Homo sapiens: one gene and its partners. The protein of the gene in region 2 interacts with the protein of the main gene of each other region in a biochemical or structural test. Each region holds a gene or a part of one and is shown on either strand. Other genes may lie near its edges.

Region 1 (7,106 bases), on a different chromosome or scaffold from region 2:
TGCCCAGAGAATCAAGGCAGCTTCATTTTTTTCGTACCTTGGTCAGTGGTTCTCAACCTTTTTGTTATCAAGGCACTTTTTGTTGTACATATGTCCTGTTGCCCCCTGCATTTTTATCTGCCAAACTGTACTGATGGAGTAACCATTGACTTTTCCCTTCCTAAATTAAGGAAGACGTCTATGATGGAGTGTACAATAAAATCAGTGTCCCAATGATTCGTATGATGTCATCAACAACCAATCAGAGCTTCTGATCAGCATGAGATAATCAGTGTGACCACAATGAGTTGATAAAATTTCAGCATGAAAAGATAACTGATGTTTAAGCCTGCCTTTGTGGTCTTGTTGTGGGCAAAAGTTTGATTTCTTTTGGGTGGTGTGACCTACTGAAAACAACTTTAGCATCACCAGTTCTATCTCAGTTAGCTCCCAGTTGTCTGACAGCCCCAGGCCAGAAGCACTTTGGCTCCTGAGGCTGTTGCTGGGTGTGCTTTGGGTGGGGGAGTAGGGAATACAGATCTGAAGGAACTGGCCTCCTTGCTGGTACTTACAGTAAATATTCACCTGGGGATTATGAAGGAGTCAATTAGATAGTCCTTCTTGGTTGCATTGGTTATTTTAGCAATAGCTGCTTCCTGCCATGTAGTGTAAAATAAGGTGACCAATTAGATTCCATGCCCTTCCCTAGTGTGCTTTGTTCCTTTTAGATTTTACTGGATGAGAGCAGTAAAATCCCATCTCCTTCTGGGAGTTGTTACTATTCCTTCTTGTAGGAATCGCTTCTCAAGGGCAGACCCTGTTCTGTCTTTTTTGCTGCTCTTGGTGCTTTGTAAATATTTGCAGAATCAGTAGTGCTCCTGTTGGGTCCAGGTCCTAGGCCTGAGCACAGGAGAGAGCTGAATTGGACGCAGTTCCTATTTCTGGAAGTTCTGACAGTTTAGTGGGGAGACAAACCCAGCTGATAGATGAGACCATCTGAGTGCTACGACAGAGGTGTTCACGGCCCTGAGGAGGAGCTCTGACCACCTGGCCTGGGGAGGGGAGAGTCAAGGAAGGCTTCCTGGAGGATGTGAACCCAGTAGCAAGCCAGGCAGAGAAGAGGGGGAGGGGCATTTCAGGCAGAGGAAGCAGCAGGAGTGCACCCATTGAACAGCTGGAATTGCAGCTTAGATCCCAGGGCTGCTGTGTGGCACCATGCTGGCCCTCCAGGATAGGACCTGATTGGATTTCTCCACATCGGTGGGTGGTCACTGGGGCCCTGGGTGGATTGTAATTGGCGGGTGAGGGGGTGGAGCTGACACTCTTTGGTCCTCTGTGTGGCAGGTCCTGTGTGGGTGTGGAGATGGCCAATGAGAATCACGGCAGCCCCCGGGAGGAAGCGTCCCTGCTGAGTCACTCCCCAGGTACCTCCAATCAGAGCCAGCCCTGTTCTCCAAAGCCAATCCGCCTGGTTCAGGACCTCCCAGGTACTGAGGGGGAGCAGTAGTGGGGTGGTGGGGTAGGAAGGGCACCCTGGGAGCAGTCCTGACCCTGGCTGGGCTCCGTGCCTGTTTGCAGAGGAGCTGGTGCATGCAGGCTGGGAGAAGTGCTGGAGCCGGAGGGAGAATCGTCCCTACTACTTCAACCGATTCACCAACCAGTCCCTGTGGGAGATGCCCGTGCTGGGGCAGCACGATGTGATTGTGAGTGCCAGCCTAGGGTGGGGGGGTCTCAGAGTGGCCTCTGGCACCTGGGCCTTCCCCAAATGTACCCTGAGCAGCCGTTCAGTGCCCAGCCCTGTGCTGGCACCTGCAGATACAATGACAAGCAAGACAGACACAGCCCCTGCCCTCATGGAACCTACACTCAAATGGGGTAGACTGACAAGTAAACAGATGATTGCATGGCTGCTGCACGGTGGGTGCTGTGCCGCGAGGCAGGAATGAACAAGGCAGACTTGCTCCCTACGGTCGCAGAGCACCCATGGGCTGCCAGGTGACAGCAGGATTACACTTGTGGTCCGTGTATGAGGAATAGTGTTAGAATACATCTAGATCCTGACATACTCTGGGGAAGGCAAGGAGATGGGAAAAGCTCTGAGAATGAGTGTTTAAGGTGAGAGAGTGAGTGAGTGTGGGGAGGAAAAGAACATTCTAGGATCTGACATGTCAGTACGACGGGAAGTACAGGCATGGGCTGTCTGGTGGGAACATGGGCTTTTGGGTCCTTCTCAGCTGGGGCAGCATTTCTTTACTGGGCACAGTTGAGACAGTTGGCATCTTCATTTTGCATGTGAAGACACTGAGGTTCAAAGATGGGGAACGACTGGCACGAGACCTCACAGTAATAGGCAGAGCAGGACGCACACCTGATGTGAGTTCAGGGCCACACTACTCACCACCATGCATTCTCTCAGTGTTACCAAGAGTCCCATCTGCAGGGCCTTGCTTTTTACAACAATAAGCAGTTTTTGAGCTTTTCATTTATTCCTCACATTCATTCTGTTCTTGAGGAAAATAATGTGTAATGAGTACTGATCTCATGCCAGATGCCATGTTAAGCAGGTCATATTCACTGACTCATTTAATAATCTCAGTGGTGATGTAGGGATTAGCATGGCCATTCTGAAGGTGAGAGAACTGGAAGGGAAGTAACACACCCTGTCGCACAGTTGCAAGTTGCAGGCAGGACTGGAGCCCAGTGTTCTCTGCCTGTATCCCAGCTCCTCTGCTCTTCCCTAAGGAGTAGGAGCAGGGGTGGGAGGGCGTGAGGATTCAAAGTCCTGTGGCTCCTAAGCCGCTGGCCCTGGTTGCAACTCTGCTGGTCTCCCTCCACCAGTCGGACCCTTTGGGGCTGAATGCGACCCCACTGCCCCAAGACTCAAGCTTGGTGGAAACTCCCCCGGCTGAGAACAAGCCCAGAAAGCGGCAGCTCTCGGAAGAGCAGCCAAGCGGCAATGGTGTGAAGAAGCCCAAGGTGAGTGTCTGTGGCCAGGAGCCGGCTGCCGAGCGGCCGGCTCAGACGGGCCGCCTGCAGGCTCCCTGCAGGGGCTGGGCATTGGCAGGCCAGCCAGGAGGGGGGCCTGGGACACAGTTCACCAGGTGTGCACTGTATTGGATGGAGCCTCTCTGGTGAATCTCCTGACTTGACACCTTTGTGACTTTCACTACAGATTGAAATCCCAGTGACACCCACAGGCCAGTCGGTGCCCAGCTCCCCCAGTATCCCAGGAACCCCAACGCTGAAGATGTGGGGTACGTCCCCTGAAGATAAACAGCAGGCAGCTCTCCTACGACCCACTGAGTGAGTCCCTGCTGATTGGCTTGGGGGCACCCATTGCTAATGTCAGCCTGTCTGGGACTGTGGGGTGGTGTGGGTGGGCAGGACATCCTCATCACTCCTCTCTGTGCCCCAAGGGTCTACTGGGACCTGGACATCCAGACCAATGCTGTCATCAAGCACCGGGGGCCTTCAGAGGTGCTGCCCCCGCATCCCGAAGTGGAACTGCTCCGCTCTCAGCTCATCCTGAAGCTTCGGCAGCACTATCGGGAGCTGTGCCAGCAGCGAGAGGGTACCTGCCTCTGGGCTGCAGCCTCCTTTATTTCCACCCACCTTTAGCATGAGCCAGGTTTGGCCAGGCCAGTTTGGGGATGGCGGAGTGGGGCCCAGTGGTGAGCCATGATCACACCAGTGCACTCCAGCCTGAGTGACAGAGCAAGACCCTCTTTCAAAAAAACAAGAGTATCTATACCTTAGGATTCTATGATAACCATTAAGTAAAATGAATAAGTATTAAATGAACTGTAGTTTTTAATTTTATTTATTTATTTTTTTTGAGATGGAGTCTTGTTCTGTAGCCCCTGCTGGAGTGCAGTGGCACCATCTCCGCTCACTGCATCATCCTCCTCCTGGGTCCCGGTTCAGGCAATTCTCCTGCCTCAGCCTCCCGAGTAGCGGGATTACAGGTGTACACCACCATGCCCAGCTCATTTTTGTATTTTTAATAGAGATGGGGGTGTCACGATGTTGGCCAGGCTGGTCCTGAACTCCTGACCTTGTGATGCGCCCGCCTCAGCCTCCCACAGTGCTGGGATTACAGGCATGAGCCACCACACCTGGCTAATTTTTTTTTAAGAGACAGGATCTGGCTATGTTGCCCAGGCTGGTCTTGTACTCCTGGGCTCAAGCCTTCTGCTTGCCTTGGCCTCCCACAGTGCTGGGATTACAGATGTGAGCCACCATGCCTGGCCTAGTTTTTAATTTTTATGATTAGTAATAAACCTATTTAACCTTGCTCAAATATAGAATCCTCTGGCCTTTCACCTTTTTTTTTTTTTTTTTAATTTTTTTTTTTCTTGAGACGGCGTCTCGCTCTGTCGCCCAGGCTGGAGTGCAATGGCGTGATCTCGGCTCACTGCAACCTCCACCTCCCGGGTTCAAGCGATTCTTCTGCCTCAGCCTCCTGAGTAGCTGGGACTACAGGTGCCTGCCACCACGCCCAGCTAATTTTTATACTTTTAATAGAGATGGGGTTTCACCATGTTGGCCAGGATGGTCTCGATCTCTTGACCTTGTGATCCACCCGCCTTGGCCTCCCAAAGTGCTGGGATTACAGGCGTGAGCTACCGCACCCGGCCCACCCTTTTTTTTTTTTTTTTTACATTATGTAATACTTTTTTTTTTTTTTCTTTTTCTAAGATGGAGTTTTGTTCTTGTTGCCCTGGCTGGAGTGCAATGGCACGGTCTCGGCTCACTGCAACCTCTGCCTCCCAGGTTCAAGCGATTCTCCTGCCTCAGCCTCCTTAGTAGCTGGGAATATGGGCACATGCCACCACACCCAGCTAATTTTTGTATTTTTAGTAGAGATGGGTTTTTTCCATGTTGGCAAGGCTGGTCTCTAACTCCTGACCTCAGGTGATCCACCCATCTCGGCCTCCTGAAGTGCTGGGATTACAGGCGTGAGCCACTGCGCCCAGCCTTTTTATTCTTTTCTTTTGAAACAAGGTCTCGCTCTGTCACCCAGGTTGGGGTGCAGTGGCACGACCACAGCTCACAGCAGCTTCAGCCACCCGGGTTCAAGCGATCCTCCCGCCTCAGCCTCCCGAGGAGCTGGGACACCCAGCTAATTTCTTTTTTTTTTTTTTTTTTTTTTTTTTTGTAGAGACAGGCTGTTACTGTGTTGCCCAGGCCGGTCTTGAACTCATGGGCTCAAGCTGTCCTTCCACCTTAGCCTTCCAAAGTGCTGAGATTACAGATGTGAGCCACTACGCCTGGCTAGATACTTATCAACACTATAAAACTAGTGATTCTTAGAATATATTTTGGGAAATGCAGCCTAGAAGCTTCTGAAGTGGGACTGTGTCTTGCTTACTGCTGAATGCGATGCTTCCTATACGTGCCAAGCTCCAAGTGGGACTGCTTGATTAAATCCAGGCCTTCAGCAGCTCTCCTGTCCTGCAGGCATTGAGCCTCCACGGGAGTCTTTCAACCGCTGGATGCTGGAGCGCAAGGTGGTAGACAAAGGATCTGACCCCCTGTTGCCCAGCAACTGTGAACCAGTCGTGTCACCTTCCATGTTTCGTGAAATCATGAACGACATTCCTATCAGGTACAGCTCCACAGCTGGGGATGACCCTGGGCCATTTGGTTTCTGTGCCCAGTCATGTATAGAAGGCCTCTAACTCTGCCCACTCTGAAACGCAGGTTATCCCGAATCAAGTTCCGGGAGGAAGCCAAGCGCCTGCTCTTTAAATATGCGGAGGCCGCCAGGCGGCTCATCGAGTCCAGGTTTGCCTGTCTTCTGCCCCAGGCGAGATGGGTCTGTGATTAAAGTGGCAGGTCATAGGCCATCTTGCCCAGTCTCATGCAGGGCTGTCATTGCTCTCGGTGGCAGAAGTGGGGCCAGCTCCCAAAGGCAGAACAAGGGCTGTGATGGAAGCTAGGGGTTGATACCCAGCGAGCCCATGGAATTGGGATGAGGAGGGTGGAGCCAAGCCATTCCTTTCTTCTGCCCTCCCCTTGACTGGCAGGAGTGCATCCCCTGACAGTAGGAAGGTGGTCAAATGGAATGTGGAAGACACCTTTAGCTGGCTTCGGAAGGACCACTCAGCCTCCAAGGAGGACTACATGGTGAGTGGGTCCCCGGGTGAGAAGGCCAGTTTTAGGGCTCTGTGGCCACTTCCTCCAGGAAGCCTACTCTGCCTGTCCAGGCTGGGCAAGGCCTCCCCCAGCGGCCTATTCTTGTGCAGTATGGCAGACGTTCGACATTCGTCAGTCCCCAAACTCATGACTGTGGAGATGTTTCTCTGGGCTCCTGGCTTTCTCCCACAGAACATTTCCATTAACAATCTTAATGGAGTCTTATGCTTGGCCACACACCACAGATAGCTGCCTTTCAGCCTAATGAATGTTCAGCATCTCCCTTGTAGATTTTTGGAAACAGATTGACAGCCTGCTTTTTTTGGGTGTGTGTGTTCATATCATGGTTAAGAGCTACCATCAGATTCAATTCCCTACTCTTAATGTGTCCAAAACAGTTCTGTTTTCTGGCCAAAACCTATCACTTCTTAAACCTCTCCACCAGCACTAGCAATGGGCTTTCTTTTCAGGACCATATTTCACAAGAGACAAGGTTTCGCACTTCACGATAGTAACTGTGTACTTGACACGTAGAGAGTGACAAAGGTAGGTGTACTCACTAGCCAGAGTGACTCATTCTCACTCTTCAGTTTTACACGTGTGATTCAGCAAAATTACAAATCCCGACAGTCATCTTTGCAAGTAGCTAAAAGCTCAAATCTCAAGTCTGCAGCAACCAAGCACCCTGTTTTGTAATTGTGTCTTTCCCCAATAGACTGCAAACACCATAAGCTGGGACTGTGCTGGTTTGTCTGTTTCTCCGGTAATTATCATGGGATCTAGCAGTGTAACCCCAACAAAAGCTACTGGCATTTATTGTACACTTACTGTATGCCAGGCATTTGGCAAGCCCTTAAGGGAAATGATCACATTTAATATTCAAACTGCCCTGTTAGGTATCTCGTGTCCCCTTGACACTTGAGGAATAAGATTGAGAGAAGCCAGGGGATTTGTCCAAGTGACACAGCTAGTCAGCAGCAGAGCTGGTT
Region 2 (7,060 bases):
AGCCTGAAAGTCCTTTCATACTTTTCCTTTCATCAGCAGAGTGAACTGAGGACCACGGAAGGATTAAACCAAAAGTGGAAAGAGCTCGTGCCTGGGGGCCCCACTCCCAGGGAGGAAGCGTTGAGCAGTGGCTGGAGGAAGCAGCAGACAGTTCTGGGGCACACGGAGTCCCCCCTCCTGCCCTTCTACTCCTCTTACACCAGAGAGAGCTAACAAGGTAGGGAATAAGACAATTACCCAATTCAATTCGGTTTTTAAGCTGCTTTTATCTTTACAGTTCAGGGATCACTGAATCATCTGGAAAATAATTTCAGCTCTCTGCTTATTTTCACTAGATTGCTTAGCCCTAGGAATATTGGAAAACCCTTCATTCAAAGTCTGAGGTCCTTTCCTCTCTCCAATCCCCACAACCCAAGCTGGGTTTCCCTGGCCCCTCTCAGACCTGGATACCAAATTCTGGGTATTTATTTATATATATATATATATTTTTAATTTTTTGAGACGGAGCCTCGCTCTGTCTCCCAGGCTGGAGGGCAGTGGCGCGATCTCGGATCACTGCAAGCTCCGCCTCCTGGGTTCACGCCATTCTCCTTCCTCAGCCTCCCAAGTAGCTGGAACTACAGGCGCCCGCCACCACGCCCGGCTAAATTTTTTTGTAGGTTTAGTAGAGACGGGGTTTCATCATGTTAGCCAGGATGGTCTCGATCTCCTGACCTCATGATCCGCCTGTCTCAGCCTCCCAAAGTGCTGGGATTACAGGCGTGAGCCACCGCCCTCGGCCAATTCTGGGTATTCATAAACCAGCAGGAGGGAAACATTGATTCGACTTAGGAAAATGAAAACCTGCCTGCATTAGTGCTCATTGAAGGAAATGCTAATGAACTAAAGTGCAATCAATTATAGAAGTATTCTCATTCCACACATCACATCGTTTGCTTTACAGAATTTTCCAACTCAAGAAACAATTTTTATTTTCAACAGAGATTTAATTATAAAATGAATATAAATTCCACGTGCATTCATGATGTATACCTTGGAGTTAAGTGGGATTCATCTGTTTTTTTCATTTATAATGGGATGCAGTGGCTTAAAAATCCTATCACCAAGCCAAATTCAGCCCTTAGCATGCCTCTGAAACCACCGAGGAAGACTTAGCCACTTACCAAGAACAAGGTAACCTGTGTTCTCCCGGGTGTAAACCGCGTCTCTGTGAAGGGAAAGGGGGAAGAGGGCCGGCAAGGACCTCCAGTATCAGCGAGGACTATCAGGACGTCCAGCTAATAAACGACTTTTTCACTGTCCACACTTTAATTGGTTTACAGCCTTTTTTGTTTATTTATCCATAAGAGCTGCTGTTAAATGGCTCGGGAAGGTGCTCGCCTAATGGCTCGGTATCGCTGCCGGGCCTGTTGTGGGCGAGGCGGCTTGGAGGGGGCGCAGGCGTCAGCGGGGATTCAGAGCGGAAACGCATTTCGCCTGTAATGGACTCGGCGATTTTACGATACCAGGAGCTAGATCCACGGGGAAGTACAACACACGACCTTACTAAGCGGAGGGTTCCGCTTGATGCGTTTTTTATACGGCTGTACGTGATAAAATTCCAGATAACTTTGTTTCATCTAATAATAATAATAACAATAATAAATGGTTGTTTGACCTTTGCTCCCTGGGTCCCTTCTATAGGTCGCAGGCAGCAGAAAATGCTAATTGTGAAAGTGAGAACGCGCCTCCATGGAATACCCCCGGCGATCCCCTCCTCCTCCCCCACAGCCGCGGGTACCCGGGTTTTTGCCGGCGACCGCAACCGGCGGATTTGCTTTCTGCTGAGAGCCTCTTTTCTTTCTGCAGGGCCGAGCAAAAATATTAAATGGAAGCAAATGAAGCATCGAAATGGAGACCAATTTACAGAAATGTGCAATTAGTTGAGAAGTGCAAAGTAAACACTCCGGGGGTGGCAGGCGAGGCAGGGAGCAGGGGAGGGAGAGTGGGGCGCAGACTGAGTCCAGAGTGGGTGTAGGGGTGCCCAGGGAGGAGGGGAAGGGGGAGGAAAAGGAGGGGGAGGGGAAAAGTGGCCGATCTTTGTCCTGAGCGGAGCTTGCCGTCCGCTCATAACCGCGTCGCCAAGTCAACCCTCGGCGACTCGGCAGATTATCTCCAAGGGTCAACACGCCGCGGCCAGGCAACCCCCTCCAGCCTGCCCTCCTGATCGATGTGGTCACTCGCGGCCAGGGTGATAGGGTAGAGTTCTCCGCGGCCGCAGACAATGGACTCATTGACGCGGGCGCACAGAGATTAGGTGCCCGGGCCCCACGGCCTTTCACTCTCTGCCCCCACCAAAACTGCAGGTGGCACTTTTCCCTGAAGAAATCACCGAAACTCTCCCCGCCCGCCGCCGTGCTTCCCTTGGCCTGTCTTCGGTGACAGCAAGGGCATCTACAAGCCAGGGAGCCACACATCAGAGCCACACACATGAGGCCACAGGCCAGGAAGCCACACACATGAGTTCTCACACATCGAAGCAAATGCTGAGACTATACCGGCCTCCCGCAAGAGAAGGAATCTGCAGAGAAGTCCACATTCCCGACTGGCTTTTTTGTCTTTTAATAAAAATAAAGAGTCCTCAGAATAGAGCACTCAATCCGCACTTAAAACACAAATATTTCCAGTAGGAAGAAAGAAATACATTAAGATTGACTCTCAAAGGTCTGGATGTTGGTGCGTTGTTTAGGAAAGGCGGAGCAGTGATTTTTCTCTGGCTTGGTTCTTTGTGGTTCAAGCTCTCTCTTGCTGAGACGTTTCTGCAAAGCTGTCTAGTTTTTCTAAAACCCACGGTGGCGTTTCGAGAAACGTCCTCATTTCGGGAGTATCCAGTCAGAGGCTGGTCAGGCCGCCAGGCCTAGCGGATCATGCCCAGGCAGGGGGTTGGACGTCACCGCCACCCGGAGGTCATCCATCCGCGTCAGTGGGTGCAGAAAAAGTGGCCCTGTTTAAGTCAGGACCCCAGAATGCCCAGAAGTTACTGAATGGTTTGAAGCCAAGCACAGATGTTATCATGGAAAATGCAGCGTTTTTATTTCTTTTTCTAAATATGTAACTCTTCCTCCACTTCCCCCTCTCCTGCTTGCCTTATTTCAATTGCAAGCAGAAGAGAGTGAGTGTTCTCTGCCGGCAAACTCCGCCAGGGTCCCGGCCCGTAGAGAGTCGTCAAGGGTCTGGAACCCCCGTGCCAACACCTGCCCCTGCTTCGCAGCCCCAAGAGGAAGGCCGCGTCTTTCCCCCTCGCTGTATTGGGAAGCTACGTTCCGGGCTGGCCAAATGGGCCCCAATTTTCCAAAACCCAAATTTGTAATACCCTTCAATTTTTTAAAAAAAAGAATTTAAAAAAGTCTCTGTGAATGCTTCAGAAGTTACCGTTTACACCCCAGAAGTACTTGCAGCACATCCACAAGTAAAAACACACAACGAATGCCAGAGTTTCGTGTGTTTTTTAACCGACATCTTTGTGGCTGTGAACAAACTTCATAAATAAAATAGAATCAAATGCTTCTGACCTAGAGAGCTGGGTCTGCAAACTTTTTTTTTATCGTATTCCGCAACAGTTAAATAAAAAATTAAAAACTCAACATGTCTCCTTGTAAACTACATCAATTAACAAACACACTATGTCCATTATCAAATATAATAGAAAAAATATAGGAAAATAGAAAATAGAAAAATATAGGAAAATAGAAACTTTTAAGCCACGGTGAAAATGTTTCTATAAATGAGTGGTTCTAATGTTTTCGTGAGCGCCCATTTTGGGGAGCACCGCCAGCTGCCCGTTCAGGAGTGTGCAGCAAACTCAGCTGAGAGAGAAAATTGGAACAAAAGCAGGTGCTCGCGGGTACCTGGGCCTAGCCTCTTAGTGCGGCCAGCCAGGCCAATCACGGCCCCCGGCTGAACCACGTGGGGCCCCGCGGAGCCTATGGTGCGGCGGCCGGCCCGCCGGTCCGCGCTGGCTGTGGGTTCCCTCTGAGATCAGTGCGGAGCTGTCAAAGCGAGCAGGGGTGGCGCCGGGAGTGGGAACGCCACACAGTGCCAAATCCCCGGCTCCAGCTCCCGACTCCCGGCTCCCGGCTCCCGGCTCCCGGTGCCCAATCCCGGGCCGCAGCCATGAACGGCGAGGAGCAGTACTACGCGGCCACGCAGCTTTACAAGGACCCATGCGCGTTCCAGCGAGGCCCGGCGCCGGAGTTCAGCGCCAGCCCCCCTGCGTGCCTGTACATGGGCCGCCAGCCCCCGCCGCCGCCGCCGCACCCGTTCCCTGGCGCCCTGGGCGCGCTGGAGCAGGGCAGCCCCCCGGACATCTCCCCGTACGAGGTGCCCCCCCTCGCCGACGACCCCGCGGTGGCGCACCTTCACCACCACCTCCCGGCTCAGCTCGCGCTCCCCCACCCGCCCGCCGGGCCCTTCCCGGAGGGAGCCGAGCCGGGCGTCCTGGAGGAGCCCAACCGCGTCCAGCTGCCTTTCCCATGGATGAAGTCTACCAAAGCTCACGCGTGGAAAGGCCAGTGGGCAGGTAAGCCTGGCTCCCCACCCCTTTCTCCTTTCCGGTTCTCACCCGGCCGCCTTACCTCCAAGCGCTCCCAGGAGCCTTCTCTCTGTTCCCGGCGCCTTGGATTATCCCGGGTCGGACTAAACTACATCAGGGAGCTACCGAGCCCATCCCTCACAGCAGTGCTTCTCTAGTCCAGTTTGAAGCATCTTTCCCACCCAGCTCTCCTGGGAGTGTACACTCCTTCCTTCCCTGTTCGCTGAGCCCATCTTCGCCCCAGGAGCCCGCGCTCCCAGCGCCATCCTTAGAGAGCCGAGGCTGAGTCCTGCTCAGGGCTTCGGACACTACAGATCCTCCTCCAGCAGGGGATCCGGGAACCCAGGACTCCTTGGTAGTGCACATCGAGGAAGCCGAGTAGGGACATGGGTGCCTCGGACCCAGGCCCCAGATCGCCTTCGGAGCCCCGGAGCCCCTCACTTCCCGCGCTTCGTTAAGGAAGGGCAGGCATCTAGGGGCGCCAGGTAGGTGCAGAAAGGCAGGGAGGGAAAGGAAACTGCACCCAACCCAGCAGTGTCCGGCTGCCCTGGTTGTGGAAACAGGATAGGAGTAAAGAGGAAGGGGCTGGGGCAAGGCGGGGGCTCACCGCGAGGCTGAAAGCCGGCCTCTCAACGTCAGAGCCTGGCAGCTAGGAGAGCAATCTGAGAAGCGAATTCGTTTTTCACCAACCGAAAGCAATTGAAGCTGTCTCCCCGCACCGCTTCCCAGGAAGTAATTTTTCAGGAGATGGGCGCTCCCTGCCTAGCTGGTGGGGAGGCGAGAGGCCTGGTTCCTGCGGCCCTCCGCGCCGGCAGAGAACAGAAGGTCTTTCCCGGAGCCGGGAGCCGGAGGCACGGGGTAGCCCCCGGGTCCTTTGCGGCCCCGCGCGAGCGGCAAGTTCCGGCGCGGCCTGTGTCGTCGCCGCTACTCACTGTCATCGCTGCCGTGCCTCAGCCACTTCTGGTCACACCTGCACCGCAAATAGTTGCCTTTTCCTTTCAACTGGCAGCCGGGAGTAGGGGGAAGCAGCTCGAGCCGGCGTCCCCCGGCCCACCCCGAAAATCCTCAGCGCCCATCTGCGGGGTCTGGCCAGCCCTGCCTGACACTGACCCCAGGCGCAGCCAGGAGGGGCTTTGTGCGGGAGAGGGAGGGGGACCCCAGCTTGCCTGGGGTCCACGGGACTCTCTTCTTCCTAGTTCACTTTCTTGCTAAGGCGAAGGTCCTGAGGCAGGACGAGGGCTGAACTGCGCTGCAATCGTCCCCACCTCCAGCGAAACCCAGTTGACAGGGGCGCCAGAAGCTGCCGCGGCGCCTCTGCAAATTTATCCAGCTCGCGCAGCCCGGGCCAAAGGCCTTGAAGTCTCCGGAAATGCGGGGTTCTTAGGAGGCGGGAGGACAGTCCCTCGAACAAAGGTGGGGGGCTCCTCGTCCTCACCCAGTTTTCTTCCAGGGCTGCCTCCCCTCCAGACCTCTCTTCTGGCCTCCTAGGCCCTCGGAGCTCCTGCTTTCCCACCCTGGGCCTTCCTCAGGAAATGGGCGACATCAGGGTCCCGAAAGAGGATTTGTGAGGTGGAGTAACTTCCCTATCCCAACCCAAGGGGTGATACCTCTGCTCTGGAGGACTTGGGCTTAGGCTGACCCAAGAAGCCAGAAAGTAAAACCAGAAGGCAAATCAGCAGCCTTGGCGAGGGTTCGGGGACCCAAGGAGGGCGACACTCTCGGGCTGGAGTTGGCCCCAGGCCTTTGCTGGCGCCCTCTAACCCGCTGCATGCTCGACTCTCGGGGAAGGAGACGACCTCCCCTCTCTTCCCCTGGAAGCCGTCTGCGGGGCCGGCTGCTATCCCCGCGTTCCTCTAGGGGAAACTTCGATGGAGCCGAAATTCAAAAATTGCAAACCCACCTGCCCCTGGGAAGAGCGAAGTGACAAAAGGGCTCTCACTGGCAGTACGAATCTGAATGCTAATGACAACAGAGGTTTTGAAAAACATTGACCCCCAAATGCTTCAGCAGCGCTGTCCAGCTGGCACCTAAACTGCATCACTCTGCGCCTTGGGGAAGGGCCCAGGCTTGGCGACCTTGACCTTTTCCCACCATCCTCAACCTCCACCCCTGCCGCGTCGCGCTGAGCACAGGTCCCCCGGGAATAGTGCACCCCAGGAAGTCTCTCCCTGAGCAGTCTCTCGCAGGGACTTCACGAAGCCCTCTCGCAGGGACTATACGAAGCCCGCAGCCTAAGGCAGGAACCCAGAGACATGTCGGTTTAATGTAAAAACTTTGGAGAGCCTTTCAAAATGTTTATTGAAGGCCCGTCTCGCTTCTCTCCCAGGCGTGGGATGCCAGGTAGATTCGGGGATGCCCCCAGGGAGTAGAACTCTCCCTGGACTAGGGTTTGAGCCTCTGCTTCAGCTTCTGGCGCCTCTTCTCGACCTGGGGGGAAACCCAGTAGGGTTCCATCGCGAAATTAAACCCGCCCCCAACACACACACACTC
Region 3 (7,106 bases), on a different chromosome or scaffold from region 2:
GGATGAAAATTAAAAGTGAAAATTCAATGTAGCTGTAGCTACTAGGAAATAAAAATCTGGGAGCTGAATTTCCAGTTAAAGGAATACATGAGTAAACTTTCACTTTCTTGAAAATGATGAAACTGCCAATGATACAACATGATTTCTGATTGGAAATAATCAAGCAGAAACAAAATGCAAGTTCTTGGTAGCAAGTCTGAACAATTTTATGATCAGCATAGAAAGTCAACTCTGATCTGAGGTCCCCAAACAATTTTTTTCAATGACCGGGATGTTTGAGGATCTCAACTTTCTGAAAAATTGTGTGAAGATTTAACTTCATTTCCTTGTGGGGACACAGCCGTAGTCTAGGCTGAATCATACCTCGAGAGACTGAGTAAAGGAATAACTAGAAAGTATCCCGAGAAGTTAAGCTTTAGCCTAGTGCCGAGAAAACCCAAATCTCGACAGATACATCTGTTTTATTTTCTGAAAGGCTTTTAACATTTTTACAACCATTTATGTCCCCAAGGAAGCCCACCCAATGCTTTTCATAAAAGCATTCCATACCACTGACATTCTTCAGCTTCTTTCATTGGGACTGCTGACTTTACATAAGAAGAAGGGTAGGGGGCGGGAGTCATAAACAGCAGACCCCAAGCCCTGAGAGCTCATTAATAAACCTAGTTGGATGGCAAAATGGAACTACACTCTACTGCAGTGGAATTCAAAGTCCCCGTGTAGAAGGGAGCCATCCAGGCCTCCAAACAAAGACCAGCCCAGTGGCAGCTCTGAATGTCATCCCCGAATCACTGAGTTTTTAATAAACTTGGAAAGGGAAGGGAAACATGAATGCATGGGAGAATCTTAAGCCTCTGGCTTTAGAAGGCTAGTTTCTCAGAGTTTATTGCCTGACAGCGACAAGTATCCTCCCAGCATCCTAAGATTATAGGATTAAATTGAGAGAAGAACTTCAGTTCTGACTCATGACACAGGGCTTTGGGAAAAGAATTACATACATAGCCTGGGTTTCTTTGACTAGTCAAGGGCAGATTTCATTGGCCTGGAAGTCTTGCCTCCATTGGTGTATGTTAGATCTCCAGGGGGAGTTTGAAGTCAGGGTATTCTATTCAGAAGCCTTTGAGATCAAAGTGGGTGACCAGCTGCCCTCCTTCCTGGACTCCACAGAGCCTCTGTCAGAGAGCCAGCCCTGGGCTGGAGAGATCTCTGGGAGGCCTAGTAATCATGGAGCTCCTGGCCAAAGAATGTTTTCCAGGGCATATTCATGTATTAGTTCCTCAATTCCTCATAGGATATTATGGGAAAATAGGGCGATTATTACAAGCCCTCTTTAACAGAGGAGAAAAAGCCACGGGGAGGTACAATGATAACACATAATGGAGTAAGTGGGCTTCAAATCTTCATCTTCTGACCTCAGTCTGGGAATTTTGTGGATAAGAGACCCACTTGCTCACACTCCCAGAAGGCAGTTAGCAAGCAGCCTGGGTATGCACCGTGACATAAAGATTAGCAGTTCATTAAACAGAGTTCAGTTTATCCCGAGGAATCTTTACTTAGCCTCCCCTCTATCACTTCATTTCCAGGCCTCCCACCTACCTTAAGGCCTGCCCCGAGAAAATTTGCTCTGGTTTTTTGTTTGTTTGTGCAATATAACATAATGCTTGTTTGTTTTTGTAATGTAGAATAATATTTGTTTGTTTTTTGCAATGTACAAATTAAGGGCATGAATCCTGGAGCCAAACTAACTTAATTCCAAATCCTGATGCTGCCCCATATTAATTCTGTGAATTCGGGCAAATGACTTAGTTTGTCTAAACCTCAATTATCTCATCTATAAAAGGCAGCTAGATCTTAACTCACTGGGTTCTCGTGAGGATTAAATGAGATAGTGCCCCTAAGGTTTCTGGTATGAAGGAGGCACTCCTTAAATGTTCGAGACTTGCCAGAGGGCTTCTTCTCTGTCTGGACTGTGCTAATGACCACAGATCCCCGGTTGAGAGGAATGCCCAGACCACACTCATCCTACACTCATCCCTATACTCATTGTCCCTTGGGAACCAACTGCAGGGAGGAGGGGAAATGGCCACCACTGGAGGGAGTACACAGCAGGCCAAGACTTATGGGGGACTCTTCCAAATTGGGGCCATGGAACTGTCACTATTTCTACTCTTTATTTTCCTTTTGTCATCCTTTTGGGTTCACCGAGCTATAGAATAACAGAGGGAGATGAATTTAGCAAATACATCACTGAAGCTTCTCCCTCGGAAGTTGGGCCCAAGCAATGGGAATGAGAAAGGTAACCTTGGACCGTGGGGGCCATTTGATTTGATGACCCCATCCCCACTTCATTTATCAGTTGGCCAATGAGGCATGGCGAGTCAGGCATTGGGCCAGGCTCTGGGTAAAGCAATGGTGGAGACTCAATGCTTGCATTGGAGGAGCTGTCAGTCATTTACCAGACACAGACTGGGTCCTAGAGAGCTGAAATTACTAGCTCAAGTCACTGCTGTTTAGTGCCAGAGCCAGCCCCAGGGTTCCCTGCCCCCACACCCAGCCTAAGTCTATCCCTATACCACAGGCCTGAACAACTCCCCCACAATACAGTGCCTCACTTTTCTTTAAGACCTTTTGCTTTGCCAACCTTAACCTTAAGAATCCACCTCCCCATCCCCTGCCAAAGACTGGGGTGAAGAAACGCACCTGGCTACAGTTACCTTTCTCATTCCCATTGCTTGGGCCCAACTTCGGGGGAGAAGCTTCAGAGATGTATTTGCTAAATTCAAGGATTCCCCACTTTTTGCTTTTACTTCCACTCACTGATAGTTTCAGCTTGACGTCAAGCCTCTTTGAAAAAGAGGCTTTTTTTTTTAAGTGAAAGAAACTTTATTTTGAGTAATATACAAAAAAAAAAAAAGAGAGAGAGAGAGAAAGAAAAAGAAGCTGAAAATGAGATTACTCATGATTTTTAAAATGGCCTCACTGATTTTTAAAAAATGTTCTTCCTCTTTCAGGACTGTTTGTGGCCACATTTGCACATAGGCACACCAGCCAAAACTCATAGATCTTGTGAATTCAGAGTAGCCTGAAACATCATCCCTTATAAATTTCAAATAGGCATTTTGTTCATGTCACTGAGCTATGTGTATTTTAAGAACCTGCTTTACTTAAGATGAGGATGGCATGAAATGAAAACAAAACAGAAACCCAAGGGCTTATGGGACTTTTCTCTGAGGGTGGGGCTCTGGTGTTGGAGGTCTGGTGGGGGAGGGGGACTTGATCCCATGCCCCAGAGCCCCTGAAACAGTTTGGGTTTCAATGTGTCTTTCAGCAAAATGATGCTTCAACACCCAGGCCAGGTCTCTGCCTCGGAAGTGAGTGCTTCTGCCATCGTCCCCTGCCTGTCCCCTCCTGGGTCACTGGTGTTTGAGGATTTTGCTAACCTGACGCCCTTTGTCAAGGAAGAGCTGAGGTTTGCCATCCAGAACAAGCACCTCTGCCACCGGATGTCCTCTGCGCTGGAATCAGTCACTGTCAGCGACAGACCCCTCGGGGTGTCCATCACAAAAGCCGAGGTGGGTTCTATCACAGGTATTCATTCTTTCGGCACATGTTTCGCTCGCAGCCACTGTGTGTTGGGCATGTTCTAGGCAGGGGGCTGTTGTTGAGAGTGAAACAAACAAAACCACTGCCCTCAGGGAGCTTACCTTCTCCTGGGAGGAGACAGAAGTACATAACATACGTAAGTACACGTTAAGAGATGAGTGCAAAGGAGAAAAAAGCAGGGAGCGGGGCAGAGAGAACGGGTAGGGATGGGGTTGCTGGGTTTAAAAACTTTTCAGGCCAGGCATGGTGGCCCACGCTTATAATCCCAGCACTTTGAGAGGCCAAGATGGGATTATCGCTTGAGTCCAGGAGTTTGAGACCAGCCTGGGCAACACAATGAAACCCAATCTCTATGACAGTATTAGCTGGGCAAGGTGGTACATGGCCTATAGTCTCATCTACTTGCGAGGCTGAGGTGGGAGGACCGCTTGAGCCCAGGAGGTTGAGGCTGCAATGAGCCGTGATCACCTCACTGCACTCCAGCCTGGGTGATGGAGCAAGACTCATTTTGCTTTTAGAGACAGTGTTGCTCCATCACCCAGGCTGGGGTGCAGTGGGGTGATCACGGCTCATTGTAGCCTCAGTCTCCTGGGCTCAAGCGATCCTCCTGCTTCAGCCTCCCAAAACACTGGGATCACAGGGATGAGCCATTGCACCCAGCCGGGGTTGCTGTTTTAAATTAGGAAGTCAGGTAAGGATTCACTGATAGTGACTTTTGAGCAGAGGTCAAAAGGAAAGGAAGAAGGAAAGAGGAGAGGGAAGAAGCCACGTGGGTATCTGGTAAAAGAAATTAAGGGCACTGAGGTGGAAGTATTGGTGCCTGGTGGGCTGTGCAGTGGGGCAGAGTATAGGGGTGGGAGATAAATAGGGGCTGGTCATATTGGGTCTTACAGATTATTATTGTATAGATGCAGCCCTGGGCTCAAAGTGAGGTGGGAAACCACAGAAGGCTTTTGAGCAGAGAAGCAACAAGATTCAACACACACACACACACACAGATACACACACACACTTTTTTTTTTGAGACAGAGTCTTGTTCTGTCACCCAGACTGGAGTGCAGTGGCATGATCTTGGCTCACTGCAACCTCTGCCTCCCAGGTTCAAGGGATTCTCATGCCTCAGTCTTCCAAATAGCTGGGATTACAGGTGCCCGCCACACGTCTGGCTAATTTTTGAATTTTTTTAGTAGAGACGGGGTTTCTCCATGTTGGCCAGGCTGGTCTCGAACTCCTGACCTCAGGTAATCCGCCCGCCTCGGCCTCCCAAAGTGCTGGGATTACAGGTGTGAGCCACCACGCCCAGCCTTGATTTATATTTTTAAATGATCACCCTGGCTGTCATGTTGAGAATGGGCAGTAGGGGTAAGACAGAAGCTGAGTGCACAGAAAGGAGGCCGTGGCAGGAATCCACGTGAGTCAGGGGGCCTGCAGCAGGAGGGAGCAGTGCAGGTGCTGAGAAGTGGTTGGCTTTGGATCTGACTTGAAGGTAAAGCTGATTTGCTGATAGATTGGATGTGGGGTGTAAGAGAAAGGGAAGACTCAAGGGTGACTGAGTTTTCTGGCCAGCATAGCTGTAAGAATGGAGCGTCCATTTGCTGCTGAGATTTGGGATTATAGGGGTTAGGGTGGTGGCAAGAGCAGGAGGTCTGTCCTATTCTGCAGACCCCTGTGGAGATGTCAAGCAGGCAGTTGGATATGTGAGTCTGGAGTTCAGAGGACAGTCTGGGCTAGAGATAATAGAGTTGGAAATTATCGGCATATAGATGGCACTTAAAGCCATGAGTCAGGATGAGGCCACCTTCTGTGTCCAGTTGTTCTGAAGAAGCTTGGAGCGTGGTGGTCCCTGTTTTTATCACTACTAGGACCCAAGCACCCAGACAGTAGAGCAAGGACCAGGCAGCCTGCCCCACCCTTCCCTGTAGCAATGTTCACAGCCTTGGGACCAGGTGTTGCTCCAGGTTCACTTCTGTCTGACACACTTGCACTGTTCCACGCTTGGCAACCTTGGGTAAGACTCCTGGAATAATAAACATGGTGAGAAGTCTGGGAGGTGGCTTCTGGCGATGCCATAGTGGCTTAAGGATGTCAGAGCTGAGGTTCCACCATTTTATTGGCCTTTTCCTCATGGTGGCAAGTGGAAGTGTTTCAGGCTTACTCAACTGGCATGATTGCAGCCTTTGGGCAAGGAGTAGTGGGACTGACCTAAAAGACTGTCCTAGTTCACCACTTGCAGGTGGCACCCCAGCATGGGCCGATTAATGCCGCTTTGGTTGGGAATGGGCTTAGGTGCCTTTTCTACAGGAGCATCATGGGCTTCTCCCAAATTTGGGAAGCTGGTGCTCTGATGCTCCAGGTGAAGTCAGAGGTGAATGGGGTTGCCCTTGGGTCTTGAATTGAAGAAGAGGCCGGGAGTGGGTGGCTAGGTAATGATCCTGAGATCATTCCTGGTTCTCAAAGAAAGGAGATGTTTACCAGACAGAATCTGTTTCGGCTTTAAATGATTATAGTTAATACCAATAGTTATCAATTTGCATATTATCCTCATCTCAAAATCCAAATGCATTTTTAAAATTGGCTAACTTTTAATTTACTAATATATTGCCGGTATAATTTTAACTTTGATTTTTGTTGTTCACTCACGTGTGTGTGTGTGCGTGTGTGTGTGTGTGTGTGTAGGGGTTTTCACACAAAAGTCTAGAGCTTTAGTATTTCGGGGTCTTTTAGCGCTAGCATTGCCCTTGTCTGCCAGCTTTTGCTGGCAGTAAAAGGCAGTGTATTTGAGGTAGGTGGCATTTCTTACTGCCCTTTAAATGTGTTTCTTTTGGATTTTACAGGTAGCCCCTGAAGAAGATGAAAGGAAAAAGAGGCGACGAGAAAGAAATAAGATTGCAGCTGCAAAGTGCCGAAACAAGAAGAAGGAGAAGACGGAGTGCCTGCAGAAAGTGAGTGCCTTCTAGCCTTACCCTTCCTCTCGCTCACGCCTGTCTTCACCAGCTTCATGTGGCTATCAGAAGAAGAGTTAGAAAACCCCCTACTTGGTTATAGTTTCCCAAGAAGGGCCTTGTAGCTGGTAGCAGAAATGCCAGTTGCAGAATGAGGAGGTGGCAAAGCAGTTAACACAATGGATGTGACGGTGGATGTATAAAAACAGGTGTGTGAATTCGTCTGATGCCTGACTCCCAGCAGCCTCGGCCGGTTCATACATGTCCATCAGCTTCCAGGCTGCAGGACATGCCAGCCCAGTTAAAGAGGCTTCACTTGACTGTTTTCCTGAGAAAAGGAAGCTGCCAGCTCTCATTTGGCTCACTATGAAAAGCCTTTAATTAATCTCTTCAAACAAGTTATTTCCTTAATCCACAAGCAGTGGTTACACTTGCTTTGCATTCTTGTCTGGTTCCTAACTCTAGAGCCCTTCTCCCTGGCTTAGCCAGTAAGCTGAGCCCCTGGCTGCGTTCAGCCGGCCCGCCTGAGAGACACTAGGGGAAATAGCTTTTGTGGGCAAG

What was found.
Region 1: the proteins of PDX1 (region 2) and PCIF1 form a complex in vitro, tested with the Homo sapiens proteins (one study listed by BioGRID).
Region 3: the proteins of PDX1 (region 2) and ATF3 form a complex in vitro, tested with the Homo sapiens proteins (one study listed by BioGRID).

Annotation. Positions count from the first base shown.
Region 1 is NC_000020.11:45,937,658-45,944,763, forward strand, and holds part of PCIF1 (mRNA (2'-O-methyladenosine-N(6)-)-methyltransferase), read left to right. Parts: exon of another isoform or gene 1-41; intron 42-1,323; 5' UTR 1,324-1,342; coding exon 1,343-1,466; intron 1,467-1,557; coding exon 1,558-1,682; intron 1,683-2,817; coding exon 2,818-2,955; intron 2,956-3,151; coding exon 3,152-3,282; intron 3,283-3,395; coding exon 3,396-3,550; intron 3,551-5,439; coding exon 5,440-5,587; intron 5,588-5,682; coding exon 5,683-5,766; intron 5,767-6,008; coding exon 6,009-6,108; intron 6,109-7,106. UniProt on the Homo sapiens protein: Cap-specific adenosine methyltransferase that catalyzes formation of N(6),2'-O-dimethyladenosine cap (m6A(m)) by methylating the adenosine at the second transcribed position of capped mRNAs.
Region 2 is NC_000013.11:27,915,987-27,923,046, forward strand, and holds the start of PDX1 (pancreas/duodenum homeobox protein 1), read left to right. Parts: upstream 1-4,013; 5' UTR 4,014-4,152; coding exon 4,153-4,558; intron 4,559-7,060. UniProt on the Homo sapiens protein: Activates insulin, somatostatin, glucokinase, islet amyloid polypeptide and glucose transporter type 2 gene transcription. Particularly involved in glucose-dependent regulation of insulin gene transcription.
Region 3 is NC_000001.11:212,611,690-212,618,795, forward strand, and holds part of ATF3 (cyclic AMP-dependent transcription factor ATF-3), read left to right. Parts: intron 1-3,328; 5' UTR 3,329-3,332; coding exon 3,333-3,572; intron 3,573-6,437; coding exon 6,438-6,545; intron 6,546-7,106.